3 linked regions of the Homo sapiens genome follow. The protein of the gene in region 3 purifies or fractionates together with the protein of the main gene of each other region. This does not show direct contact. Each region holds a gene or a part of one and is shown on either strand. Other genes may lie near its edges.

The links.
Region 1: the proteins of FAM83F (region 3) and ZNG1C purify together in Homo sapiens (affinity purification with mass spectrometry; one large-scale study listed by BioGRID and IntAct). This does not show direct contact.
Region 2: the proteins of FAM83F (region 3) and PEX6 purify together in Homo sapiens (affinity purification with mass spectrometry; one large-scale study listed by BioGRID and IntAct). This does not show direct contact.

The regions. Positions count from the first base shown.
Region 1 is NC_000009.12:68,269,481-68,273,905, reverse strand, and holds part of ZNG1C (zinc-regulated GTPase metalloprotein activator 1C), read right to left. Parts: intron 1-4,425.
Region 2 is NC_000006.12:42,962,442-42,966,275, reverse strand, and holds the end of PEX6 (peroxisome biogenesis factor 6), read left to right. Parts: coding exon 1-34; intron 35-170; coding exon 171-232; intron 233-486; coding exon 487-595; intron 596-907; coding exon 908-1,024; intron 1,025-1,123; coding exon 1,124-1,201; intron 1,202-1,346; coding exon 1,347-1,486; intron 1,487-1,804; coding exon 1,805-1,941; 3' UTR 1,942-2,411; downstream 2,412-3,834. Other genes in the region: GNMT (glycine N-methyltransferase), read right to left, coding at 2,570-2,741, 2,827-2,948, 3,062-3,204, 3,398-3,514; CNPY3-GNMT (Glycine N-methyltransferase-like isoform 1 precursor), read right to left, coding at 2,570-2,741, 2,827-2,948, 3,062-3,204, 3,398-3,514. UniProt on the Homo sapiens protein: Component of the PEX1-PEX6 AAA ATPase complex, a protein dislocase complex that mediates the ATP-dependent extraction of the PEX5 receptor from peroxisomal membranes, an essential step for PEX5 recycling.
Region 3 is NC_000022.11:40,038,957-40,044,809, reverse strand, and holds the end of FAM83F (protein FAM83F), read right to left. Parts: 3' UTR 1,276-5,853; downstream 1-1,275.

The sequences.
Region 1 (4,425 bases), on a different chromosome or scaffold from region 3:
ATTGCACCACTGCACTCCAGCCTGGCACAGAGTGAGACTCCGCCTCAAAAGAAAAAAAAAAAAAAAAGAACAGCAGAGGACAGTGATTTCTCATAATCAAAGCTAAGGTGAAGAAATATTTAAAGAAAATGACAAATGTATAATTTCAAATTTAGATTCCAGAAGCTTGCCAAACATTTGTTAAATTTTCTTACAAGGAAAAAAAACATCATTGGTCAGATTCAAGATTTTTTTTTCTTTAATGCACAAACATATAAGAAAAAACATCTCCTTTATCTTAGGACTGACCAACTGTGCCTGCTTTCTTTATTCTCAACAGTCTATCACATACTCGTACTCGTGGCAACAATACTGTGTTAGATTATGAATGCTTGTCTTGGCAAAAGAGAGACAAATTCCCATCTTATTACTCCAAAGTTCTATGTTAGTAGACTATAACAGCAACTCAAATTCTGGGCATTTTAGATGTACAGAATTAGAAAAATGATCAAGCAAAGAAGCAAATGTTCTATGAAGAAATTTTTGAATATCAGTTTACACTAAAAGGCCAAAGTCTTAATATTAAACATATTTCCTTTTTCACCCCCCACCCCTCCCCCCGCTACTGAGCATATTTATATTGACAGGTCACAAACAAGGGGCATGGGGGCTCCACTTTGGGAGGCCAAGGTGGGCGGATCACTTTGAGGCCAGGAGTTTGACACCAACCTGGCCAATGTGGCGAAACCGTCTCTACTAAAAATACAAAAATTAGCTGGGTGTGGTGGTGCACACCTGTAATCCCAGCTACTCGGAGGGTGAAGCAGGAGAATCGCTTGAACCCAGGAGGCAGAGGTTTCAGTGAGCCGAGAACGCACCACCACACTCCAACTTGGGGGACAGAGTGAGATTCTGTCTCAAACCAGAGTGAGATTCTGTCTCAAAAAGATAAAAATAAATAAAAATAAAAATAAAAATAAACCAAATGAATGAAGTTTCCCTCCAAGTTTGTCATCTTCATCTTAGGAAATAGCTTAAAGTTTAATAAAGTTTACACATGCCAATTTTGTGAATATCAAATTCAACAGTTTGGAAACACAAGCTTCTAAATAAACTGTTTCACTGTGACAGTGTCCTTGAGAATACATGCCATCCAGAGGTAATTCTGCTTTATACTCAGATTCTTTCCATACTTCCAAAAAAGGATCAATATTAGACCTGTATAACAAATTACACTCTTTTACAGAAAATAATAAAATATCCAAGTCTCTCACCAAATTTTCAAAAAAGAGGAAAAGTGTAAGCTTCCAGATGAAAGTTTCTATAGCTTTCCCCAAATTTAGTACCACCATGAAAAAGAAATTCTTCACTCATTCAAGGCATACGACTAGAAAACTAATTTCCATGGCATCAAATTAATTTCCTCCTTTGGAGATAAAACCATGAGATCTTTTCCAAAGCATTAAAATCGCCAAGAAAAAAAAAAAAAAGAAAAAAAAGACCATTACCAGCATTTTAAAACTGAGTAAGAGAATGAAGTAAACAAAAAAGGGAAAGAAAAAGCTTCAAAAGTTCATTTTTCTCCTAATTTCTTGAACTCTCTATTCCAGAAGTACCTAATGTTTTTCTTAAAAGAGAGGCTTTCAATTTTTCCCTATGTCTAAAGGCTGCTTTAAGTAGCTTAAGACCAAGGACAGGAGAGTGAAAACGAAGAGGGTTTTGGCTCTCCTCGGTGGGGGTGGAATTGCAGCTACTGCTTAGGGATATTTTCCAGTGGTCAGCTCTTCAAACTCCAGTGAGTCTCATAAACAGGGTGCACCAGCCAATCCAAGTATCCAGTATCTACAATGCAAACTGTAGATACTATCCAAATTGACAGTAGATAGCTCAGTAAATAGCTGAGCAAACTGCAATGATAGCTCAGTCTTGAACTCTGGAAATAAATTTCCAAAAGCCTTCCCCAGTGGCACTTCAAACTCAAAAACGTTTACAAAACCAATCACATTTTCCAAACCTGCTTCCACCACTACCCGACCTGTTGCTCCTCCTTCCTGTATTTCCTATACCTCGGAGATTAGTCTCACATTGAATCTACCTCCCAAGAGTCATGTTGCTTTTAAAATCCTTCACTAACTCCTTGCTCCCTACAGAAGAAAATCCAAACTATGTATCATGGCATTCAAGACCCTTTGTGGTAAGTTCTCTATCTCTTCAGTCATACCACTTTTTCTGTGCTACATAATACCAAGTTTTCTAGCCATTCTAAAATATTCAAAGGTCCCTGGAATACAAAATCTTCCTTATACCTGGAAAGTTATCCCTACCCTACTCCATCTGTAAAAACCTTATTCATTCTTTAAGACTCAGGTCAATGACTGCCTTCTCGGTCAATATTTTCCTGACTCTTTTTCAAGAAAAGTTGAGCAATCATTCCCTCTATTTTCCTATTATTATAGAACTCTGTGCTTTTAAAATTCTTGTATTAATATTAATATCTATTATGTTGCCTTTTTGTTTGTTTGCTTCTGTTTCCCCCCAATGACTGATCTCCTTAAAGGCAGAGTTTTTGCCTTATCCATTGCTTATATAGTCCTTAAAATGCTATGAAATGCATAGCAGGCAGTTTGTCAAATTAATTTAACTTATTATTGACCAGCTGTGTTTTGGTTTTCCTCTGTTCAGTCCACTTACATTTCTAAAAATTAAGAAAAAGTCTAGAGAAGATTAAAATGACACATCTTCTAACCTGTTACTCCTACTTCTGAAATCTATGTGGTTCACTAGTACTTCCATTTGCTACTAAATCAACTTAAGTCTTACCACTAAGACGATGCTACACACTATTCCTTTTCCTTACTCTTAACTACTCAAGGTGAGCCTTTTTCTACACATGCTTATAGCAGTTTATTGTCAGTACTTGTCAGCTACAAAATGGTAAAAAAATTTTAAAAAACAAAAAATAAAACAAAACTTCTATAAGAGTGACTTTGACTATTTTGTTAACCATATCTCCGGGTTTTTTGTTTGTTTGTTTTTTTTTTTTTGAGACAGAGTCTCGCTCTGTCACCCAGGCTGGAGTGCAGTGGTGCGATCTCAGCTCACTGCAAGCTCCGCCTCCCGGGTTCACGCCATTCTCCTGCCTCAGTCTCCTGAGTAGCTGGGACTACAGGCGCCCACCACCAGCCTCAGCTAATTTTTTGTATTTTTAGTAGAGATGGGGTTTCACAGTGTTAGCCAGGATGGTCTCCATCTCCTGACCTCGTGATCCGCCCACCTTGGCCTCCCAAAGTGCTGGGATTACAGGCGTGAGCCACCGTGCCCAGCCCAAATCTCCAGTTTCTAAACTGGTAAGCTCAAGTTGCTATGCCTCAAGGAATTTGAGAGAATATTTAATATAAGATTCAGGACCCAATAGTAAGAATTCTACTCAGGACATCTGATCTTCATTGAAAAGGATTCTAATCCAACTTCAGTCCTCATAGCAAGGAAGTACTATTTCAGAAAGTCCCTAGATTCTCAGATGCATTGGCAAGCACCATACACTGAAGAATTCACAGAAGATTTTAGTCACTTGCTCACTCATCCACTTGAAGTAAGAAAAATCAATCACTGCATGTTTATTGTTCTATAATAAAGCAAATGTTAGAAATAAAAGTTAGAAATGTCAAACACACTAAATTGTTACATAATAAACTAATCAAGACACAACTTTTATTCAGGACATGGATATTTCTGAAATGAAAATAAAAGAAGAGAATTGACTTAAAATGTTTATAAATACGAATATTATGACAGAACCAAAGCTATTTATGAGCATTATTTTTAAAAGCTTGTTTAAGTATCATGCACTTGTCTGTGTGACATTTTGTAAAGCGGAGAAAAATTAAGGAGAAAGGAATTGTAGAACACTAACAGGAAGAGGACAGATACTGAGGAATGGCTCATGGTATAAGTGAGATTATCAGAGACTCTCTACAATGGAATTTGAAACGCAGGGAGCACATTTGGTGTATGGTTGTAGAGGACTTACACTAAGGGCATTCTTCTGCTACCTCTGCCAGCAGATGAGTGGCTCCTGAGAATGCATACCAAATTAATTCCCCAGCTGTTCACATGCATATAAGCAGCTGCTGCTGTTACTGCCTAATACTTATGGCAGTCTGTCAGCACCTCTAATCTCTGCCATAGCAGACAAGCCACTCACCTAAGGCCTCTGCTGTACTTCCAAAGAAAGAATTTCTCAAGTAGAGACTGAGTGGAACTAGACTGCCAGCTGTGAGCCTCAGAGCTCCTGGCTGCCTGTTGCTGAGTCTATCAGCTGCTGAGCCTTTCTCACCAAAAAAAAAAAAAAAAAAAAAAAAAAAAAAAAAAAAAAAATGAGCTTAATAAAATAACCCTGCACAGAAATTTTCTGAAATTAAGATAACATTCAATGGAAAACAGAAT
Region 2 (3,834 bases), on a different chromosome or scaffold from region 3:
CAGTAGCCACTGAGTGCAGCCTTACCTTCCTCAGGTGGCCAGGGGGCCTGGAAGGGATGGTGGGTGGATCAGGGGCTGCAGCAGGCTGGGGAGCAGGAGGGGCTGCCCAAGAGGTCAATTGTGTGTATGTGCATCTGACGGCTCTCACCTTCTCACATCCTCTCACTCAGCGTGAAGGGGCCAGAGCTCATTAACATGTATGTGGGCCAAAGTGAGGAGAATGTGCGGGAAGGTGAGTGAGCAGGGAGGGGCAGGGCGTCCCATGCTTCCCAAACCCCGATGGCCCCCAAGCCACCCCCTACTCCCAGGCTACTCATGATCATTCCTAATCCTCCTTTCTACAAGTCAGGTTCCTGCCCAGCTGGGTCTAGTACCTGGGATGCCAGTGCTGTATTGTCAGGCCCCAGTTTCCCTCCCTGCTCTCACCTAACTTCAACCCCCCACAAGCCGAGCTTTGCCCTCCTGTGGGCCCCTCTCTCTCTTCAGTGTTTGCCAGGGCCAGGGCTGCAGCTCCATGCATTATCTTCTTTGATGAACTGGACTCTTTGGCCCCAAGCCGGGGGCGAAGTGGAGATTCTGGAGGAGTGATGGACAGGTAGGGGTCTGAGTGGGAATGAAAGCTGAGGGGTCCAGGGTGGGAAGGATATGAGAAAGCTCACAGCAGTCTTCAGAGTCCAGAGATAGAAGTTCCTGCTGTTTCAGTTCTGAGATAATATAATGGAAGCTGAAAGGGGCCATGAAATTGGGCAGGGTCCACTGAGGAGAATGGGGGCCTACCTGGTGGGGCACATTGGGCACAGCTGAGTGGAGGGCCCTGTTGAGACTGCCTGTAAAGAGAGGTACCACAGGCAGGGGCAGAGTCTAAGGGGGACACCAAGGACTCTTGCCCTTGCTCCCTTCTCTCCAGGGTGGTGTCTCAGCTCCTTGCCGAGCTAGATGGGCTGCACAGCACTCAGGATGTGTTTGTGATTGGAGCCACCAACAGACCAGATCTCCTGGACCCTGCCCTTCTGCGGCCTGGCAGGTGGGCCCCTTGTACTGCTCATCTCCACCCTCATTTTGTGCCTCCTTCACCCCTCATGGCTGGGCTCCCTGAAACTTATACCTGCCTATCTCCCTAAAGATTTGACAAGCTGGTGTTTGTGGGGGCAAATGAGGACCGGGCCTCCCAGCTACGCGTTCTAAGTGCCATCACACGCAAGTATGCTCTGTTAGAGGAAGACTGCGAAGGGCTTGGGCCTTGGGATGCTTAGGGGATGCATGCAACATGCAGGATGAGCTGGTCAGCACTGGCTTTCGAGGGAGGAGGTGATGCCAACTCTGTTTCTTCCTGTATCCCACAACAGATTCAAGCTAGAGCCATCTGTGAGCCTGGTAAACGTGCTAGATTGCTGCCCTCCCCAGCTGACGGGCGCGGACCTCTACTCTCTCTGCTCTGATGCTATGACAGCTGCCCTCAAACGCAGGGTTCATGACCTGGAGGAAGGTGAGCCACTTGCCGGTCTGAGAGGTCAACCAAAAAGCTAGTGGGGAGCTGGGTGCACCTGAGTCCCAGCTACTTGAGAGGCTGAGGTGGGAGGATCGCTTGAGCCCAGGAGTTTGAGGCCAGCCTGGGCAACACAGAGAGACCCCAACTCTAAAAAAAATGTTTAAGGGAAAAAAAAAACTAGTGGGAGACAAACCTAGTCCTGGATTCCAGAGGGAAGATCATTGACATCTAGGAGACCCTGAGCAGGAAGCCACCTTCGCAGGGCTCTCCCCTGCCTGGGCATAGACCACAGCCTCCCCACCTTGTCATCTCCAGGGCTGGAGCCAGGTAGCTCAGCACTGATGCTCACCATGGAGGACTTGCTGCAGGCTGCCGCCCGGCTGCAACCCTCAGTCAGTGAGCAGGAGCTGCTCCGGTACAAGCGCATCCAGCGCAAGTTTGCTGCCTGCTAGGAGCCCCCCAGGGTCTGGGACCCCGCTCAGCATGGCTGCAGGTACCTTGATAGCCCACAGAGAGATCTGGGAAGGAAGGGCTCCTCCTCAGGCTGCTGCCAACCCACCTGGAGGCCACCTCCCTCCAGGAGATCCCAGGGTGCAAAGTGGCATTGAGACAGCAGCAACAGCTCAAGAGATATCTCCTGCCTACTTGCCCCTCCTTCCAGGCCGGCTCTAAGAGAAAGGCCCATCTACTCAGGAAGAGGGCCAGGGCCTTGGGTTCTGGGGATTGGGCCCTGAGAGGGCTAGTTCTGTGGCTGAAAATAAAGCATGTCCCGCCCCCTACTGGTGTTGTGGCATGAAAGGTTGGAGTGAGAAAGAGCAGGGTTGTGGGAGGAGTAAGCCCTGGGAGAGGGTGGGGGGGTGGGCAGCATGGGAGCCTGATCCTTCTGACATAAATAAACACAATGCATGCAGGAACTGAAAAAGACTATATTGTTTACCCTTCCGTCTGTGGAACCCACATCCCTGCACCCCAGCTGTAGTCTGCTCTAGAGGCTGGCCCTGGTGTGGGGCTGCTGGTCCCCATCTTCCAGACAGAGCCTAGCAGTGCCTGGGCAGAGGCTTGTGGGAGCTGAGGCCACACTCAGTCTGTCCTCTTGAGCACGTGGATGAAGTAGCAGGGAATGTAGGTTTGGCCTGGCTTGTAAGGCTTGAAGTCGCCCAGGACGCTGTGCTGGCACTTACCTCCGAAGGCTGCTTGGAGCAGCTCCGTGAAGGATGCCAGACAGTGTGGGTAGTAGGAGAGCCGGAACTTACTGTAACAGAGGCCCCAGCAACCATGAGGACTGGTGACCTCAGCTCCCCCAACTACCGCCTCACCCCCACTAAGCCAAGTGGTACCTCAAGCCAGGAGAGCCATCCTGGCCAGCCCCCGGCACCTGCACCGTATAGTCCAGGGTCACCATGTGGGCCTTGTTGTTCACTATCAGCACTGATGTTGTGACGTCCTTGGTCAAGTCACTCTGTAGGTGGTGGGGCAGCCGGCATTAGCCTCTGTAACCCACCTTGGGGCCACTGGACCCTCCCTCCACCCCACCCCCACCCCCACCCCCACCCCCACCCCAGAGGGCCCCACCTTATAGTAGATGTTCTTCCCTGGGGGTGCACAGCCTGTACTGAGGATGTGGTCGTAGTTGCGATGATCAATGACCAGTAGGCCCCCTGCCCGCACCATGCTCGCAATGTTTTTCAGCGCCAGCCGGTGCTCACTCTGGTCCCCTGAGCTCCAGGCACGGGCAGAAAGACTCCATCTGCTCAGGGCCCCCAGCACCAGTCTCCCTCCCATCTCTCCCCTCCCCAGGGGTGCCAGAGCCAAGGCAGAGAGTCTGCTTTGGCAGGAGAGCAGGTGCCAGATGTCTGTGGAAGGGGGCCTCAAGGCGGGGGCCATGCCCAAGGCCACACCCTCTCTTACCTTTGCAGTCTGGCAAGTGAGCGAAACTGTTTCCAAGGCAGATGACAGCATCAAAGCCACCCTCTGCTGACTGGGGCACATCTTTGTCCAGAGTCATCCAGTTGGCTTCTTCGATGACTAGGGGTCAGGAAGAGAAAGAGGAATCAGGGAGGCACGATGGTACCAGTAGCAGCCACCTCCACCAAGTGCAGTCCTGCCTGGGTTTCTTCTTAAGACACACAAGCTCCCCGTTCAGTTAGGGGGAGGAGAAAAGAGGGATCAAGGGAGAAGGAACCCTGGTTGGGAAGGAGGGCTCTGTGCTTATGGGTTTTTCTTTGAGGGGAGGGACAAGATGCCACAAACACAGTTAAAACCAGCTCTTCACACCCGGTGTCTCATTCTGGAGCTTAAGACTTGCTTTTCAGAGAAATGACAGTAATTTTTCTGTCTCCCCGAGG
Region 3 (5,853 bases):
CCTCCGCATCCCTCCCCCAAAACCACAACACAAACACTCGGGGGCCCGCCCAGAGCCCCACTCCATTGGCCGCAGGGAGGATGCTTCCGGCTCTCACTGGCTGGCTTTTGTGCCCGTCAAGCTGTCGTTCCGCCCCTCCAATTCCTCGTTGCTGCCTTCGCCCCTCATTGGTTAAGTGCTTCCCGTTTAACGAGCTAGGATTGGCTGAGCTGCCTGAGCCAATCATGTGGGGACACACCCCCTCAGCATCCCAGAGGCCGCTTCCTCGGTCGAGGACCCAGAGAGACTCAGGGGAAATTAGAGCATGATGGCGGCCGAGGTCGCTTGGCGCAACCATCGTCTTTTTTCTTTATTTTTAGCTCATTAGTGCCTTGCCTCGGCGCTGTTTCCCTAAGCTCCTCTCTCCAACCAGTACTGCCCTATAACGGAATCCATACGTGCCGGCTCCTTGATTTATCCCCTCCGAAGTGCTGAGTGTGGGCTGGTTGTGCGTCATTGGACTGTCAGGATGTCACTCCCCAGTCAAATCTTCAAGCTATTGGTGGAACAGCAAGAAAGCCCGTCCATCAACAAGGGCTAATACCATTGGTTTGACTCCACTGTGTTATTTCCTGGCACCTTATTGGGCAAATAGGTGCGTCAGATCCGGATTCGCTCTGCTACGGTTAATTGTTTACTGGGGATTTGGGGTCAACTCTGGTTGTTTGGCCAGTAGTTGACGATAATAGTGACTCCCTTGCCTATTTTGTGCCAAGTATTGGGCTGCTTTCTTCACAAACATTATCTGGTTAAACCTGGGAGTAATGCAGTATCCAGTTTTTATAGATGGGAAATTAAGGCTGGCGAGAGCTTAGAAAACTTGCCCAAGGTCATCCAGATACAGAGTCGTTGGTGGGCCTGGCATCTGGTCCTGGGTCAAACTGCAGAGACTTCACTCTTTTTATTATGCTTTAGTGCCTCCACCTTAGACGATGTACTTGTCAGCCAACCTAGCATCTTAAAAACGTTTCATTTGGAACTCAAAGTCTTCAGTCAGTTTCTAGAAGTGACTTTGTTGGGGACTTACTATGGAAAGGTTGTCATTGCCTCCACCACATCTTCCTCCCCAGGACCCATTCCTCTCCCCTTTAAGGTAGACATTTCTGCCTCCTTTTATGCGAAGCCTAGGCACCACTCGCAACCCCTGACCAACCATCTACAACTCATTCTTTGGAGAGAGTCCTCAAGAGCTGGAAAACTAGGAGAAATCAAGTCTAAAGAGAGAGACAGAATAAATCGTCTTAGAAATGAATAATTTATTGCATGCAAAGAGAACAGCCCTTCAGCTCCTGGAAATCTTCCAGGATAGTTGATGCTGAGCAAGACGTGTGCTCCTGGCTGGTGGCCACTGGGTTCTTTCCCTATAGCAGCATTCATCGAAGTGAATCCAACATTTCAGCCAGAGGAGGGCAGGACGCTTAGGACCCATTGCCAGTGAGCTTTTGCGACCGAAATGATCTCCAGGAGCACAACGCTGGACTCTAGCCCACATTCCATCTTGGGTAATTAACATTTTACCGTCCCAAATCCCCATCCCCTGTAGCTTCAGTGGGATCACCGCCCTTGTTTCACTTCCTGATCCAAGCTGTTGTGTAACCTCCTTGGCACTGCTTTAATAATAAAACAACCATTGTAACATAGTAACAATGCTCAACACTTAGAGCCTTTCAGCAAATGAAGCCAAGGTATTTCATAAACGTCAATTAAGAGTAAGTGGCATGTATTCCTAGGGCAACTGCAAGAAGGACAGAAGAAAGATCGTGCGTCAAATTCTAATATAGGTTGTAAGAACGTGAGTCCTTAAAATTGTATGCACATACCCCATATTAGCCTTCCAGTATGGGGATTCTGAACTCAAAAACACAATGAATGAGAAACATTCAGAATCTAAAACCTTCCTAATCTTCAAAGTTGGTTGCTTGGACCCCTATTTTAGCACTTAAGTTGGTGCTTGACTTTCTGGGTAATTGTTTGATACATTTCAGTTGTAAGTACCTTGAAGCAGATGGTTTCTTTTTCATCTTTGTGTCCTTCACATTGTTCTGATCGTAAAAGGCCCCCAAATAAATAATTACTCAGTAAATGTTTAGTGAGCATGTCAGGCACTTTTACTAAGTTACAAAGGCTATGCAGATGAGTGATACACTCTCTCTTCCTTCAAGGACCTCAGTCGAGTAGGGGTGTCCAGCAGATAAGCAGATAACCATGATGCAGTGCTGTGAGAAGGTGCCCTGGAAGCAAATGGTAGGGACATGGGACTCCATCTCGGGAGGGACAGAAATGGCTTCCTGGAAGAAGTGACACCTTCAAGGAGAACTAAAGAATGAGTTACGGTTAGCTAGGCAAGAGACTGGTGATGTGTGGTGACCTACGACATTTGCTCTCTGGTGGCAGGGAGCAGAATGGGAATATCCAGAGATGGCCAAAGCCTGTTCTTCTTAGAATCTTTGTCCATAAAGGCCTCAGCAATTTGTCCACTCCACCTCATTGTGCCTTCCCTCCCAGAGACAAAACAAATGCCTGAAACCTTCTCCTATTTGCCCACTTGAGAATAGGAAAATAATTTCCAAATAAGATGGCCGTTTTTCTGATCATAAAAGTAACATTGAGGCCAGGCACATTGGCTTATGCTTGTAATCCCAGCAATTTGAGAGGCCAAGGCGGAAGGATTGCTTGAGGCCAGGAGCTTGAGACTAGCTAGAGCAACACAGGCAGAGCCCATTTCTACAAAAAGAAAGAAAATAAATAGTTGCGCATGGTGGCCTGCGCCTACAGTCCCAGCTACTTGGGATGCTGAGGTGGGAGGATTGCTTGAGCCTGGGAGTTCAAGGCTGCAGTGAGCCACACCACTGCACTCCAGCCTGGGCAATAGAGCAAGACCCTGTCTCAAAAAAAAAAAAAGTAACATTGAGTAAATATAATATTAACTCAATATTTAATATTCTGTATTTCAGACAATATAGAAAGTTATAAAGTAAAAGCCGCCCATAGTCTGTTACATCCAGACACTGTTAAGGAGACTATCTTCCCAGACTCTTTTATGAACAGACCCACAAATGAGTTTCTTCTTCCAACAAACAGTGGGATGTGGTTCAGGGTCTTTTCTGGGCTCTCAGAGCTCTCATCACCCAGAACTGCGGCTTTGGATGGAACCTGCCCTCGCTTTCTATACTTATAGGAAGGAAGCCAATCTGTCAATCAAATATTTATTGTGGAGAAGATGGGTTTCAATTCCTGTCAGAGCCAATGGCAGGACTTTTGGGGCTTACTCAGCCTGGTGTGAATGTTAAGCCAATGATTGGGGTGAGGGCGTCTGCCCTGTAGGGCTTACAGGCATGCCTTGGTGCCTGCGGAATCAACTCATACCCTGAAAAGGCAGCCCAGGTCAGAGAATGCTATGCCAGGGTGCTCTCTTGTGCTTGCTCTCATTTCCTCTCTGCATGCTACTTGGGGAAAATATTTTTCTGTTTGTTTGTTCCAACCCACCCAGCTTTCAGAGTAAAAAGACTCGTTAAGCCCTGCACACTTGTATGCAGGCCAAGTGCACTATGTTCTTGGAGCGCTGTGCTATTCTTAGCGCTCTATATGTGGTGTTCTATACAGTTGGCTTTTTGCTGGAGGGGAAGGCAGATTTCATGAGTGATAGCTGCCTTGGCTGGCTACCAAAAGTGCTCTGAGCCATCTCAAGCAACAGGCCTTCCTTTTTTCCCTTGAGAGGTTGTGTTGTGATCCCTGCCCTCGGCTTGGACAAATTCCAAGGCAATGGGAATTTTTGTGAACAATTCTGCAATAACCCACAAGCTGGGGGAAGGGGGGATAGCAAGCTGGATCTGCTCCAGCTCTAATTTCTGTGACACAGAAGAACTCCTTCCGCCCTTTGCACTGGCCCCTCATAGCTATGAAGAATTTGGAAGTGTTCATTAAGCATTCTCCAATTCTTGAAGCTTATAACAATGGGAAGATCCCTGTAAAGGAATCTGATCCAAAAGACAAGGGGACAGCTGACAGCTGATACTGCTTGCTTGGGCAGTGGGTGTAGCCATTGCCAAAGACCAAGAGCAATGAGGCAGGGAAACTCTCTAAAGAGGGCTGATTACAGAGGGCATGCTTATAAGCATTTATTGCATGTCTGGGAGCATTTACTGTGCAACACATCCCTTGTGTCTGTCTCACCTTCTAAATCACCTATCATTTTTTATGACCACACTTCCTGAGAAGCTACTTAGTTAAGCAGCAAACACTGGACCCCCTCATGTGTGCTGGCCAATGCTAGACACACAGGAGGCAGCTCACAAGAGAACCAGGATTATGGTTAATAATAACTACCCTTTGGTGGACACTTGCTGTGTGTCATACACTGTACTGAGGGCTTTACGTGGATTATGGCTGTTAATCTTCACAACAACCATTGTTATCCACATTTTCTAGATAGGAAAATGGAGGCACTGAAGGGCTAACTAACCCATCGTTGAACCTAGGCGGTCTGACTCCAACGAGTAAGCTCTTGTCCACGCTGCTATATTGCCTCTGGGATGTCTGACTTGGGAACCCCACAGTGCAGCTGGGGAGATGACCAGCCCTCAATGAACAGTTGTCCTCGTAGTCTTTAGTATCTCAGCCCCATCCTCTTTACCCCCTATAAACTCAAGGAAAGAAATACACCTCTTTCCGGCTAAATTACTGCCTCTGGTGGTCCTTCCTCCACGTCCCAACTGAGATCTGGCTTTTCTCCCACTCCCTTCAAATAGCTTCCTTCCCTTTCTTCTCTATTTTCTTATCCTAGCTTTTTAAATAATGGCCTGCGGCCATCTCCACCACCAGGAATGCTCTCTCGTTTTCTCTCTCTGAACCTGGCTTCTAGCCCTAACTCTACTGAAATTCATTTCTCTAAGCTCATCTATAACCTTTTTGTGGCCAAGATCCAAGAGACTTTCTCAGTCCTTGTTTCCATGGCTTCACCAATACGTTTTACTCTGAGAATCTTTTCTTTGCTTCCCCAAATAGCCAGCTTTCCTCCTACCTCTACAACTGTTCATGCTCTTTTCCCTACCATCTCTTTCTCTAAGCTCCTTCAAAGGAATCTGTCTGCACTTCTCTCCTTATGTTGTCTCTGGGGGCGTGCGACGCTCGCAGGACTCAGCAAGCTCAGCTGGGTCATTATCCTACTTTCACCTCTAAGATGAGAATTCTATCTCTCCATCTCCACCCTTCATTCTGCAGCTTGTTTGCTGCGTGACTTTTTGCAAGTCACACAAACTATCTAAGCTTCAGTTTCCTCGTTTCTAAAATGAATATATTGAATCGGATTTGTTATTCTCCACCTAAGATAATGATAAAACCTAACATTTTAACCCACATACCAGGCCAGGCGTAGTGGTTCATGCCTGTAATCCTCCCAGCACTTTGGGAGGCAGAGGCAGGTGGATCATGGAAGTCAGAGGTTCAAGACCAGGCTGGCCAAAATGGCAAAACCTCATCTCTACTAAAAATACAAAAATTAGCTGGGTATGGTGGCGCGCACCTGTAATCCCAGCTACTCAGGAGGCTGAGGCAGGAGAACTGCTTCAACCTGGGAGGTGGAGGTTGCAGTGAGCTGAGATCGCGCCACTGCACTCAAGCCTGGGCAACAAAGGGAGACTCCATCTCAAATTAAAAAAACTGCATACTATGCCAGGCAGGACTAAGTGGAAAATGAAAGCATGGGGTTCTGTGTTCACAGGTTTCATGCCCATGAAGCCAGCTCTAGTACCAGCCTCTGCTCCAAGCATTGTATATGTATGAGCTTATTCAGTCCTCATAGTAACTTTCTGAGGT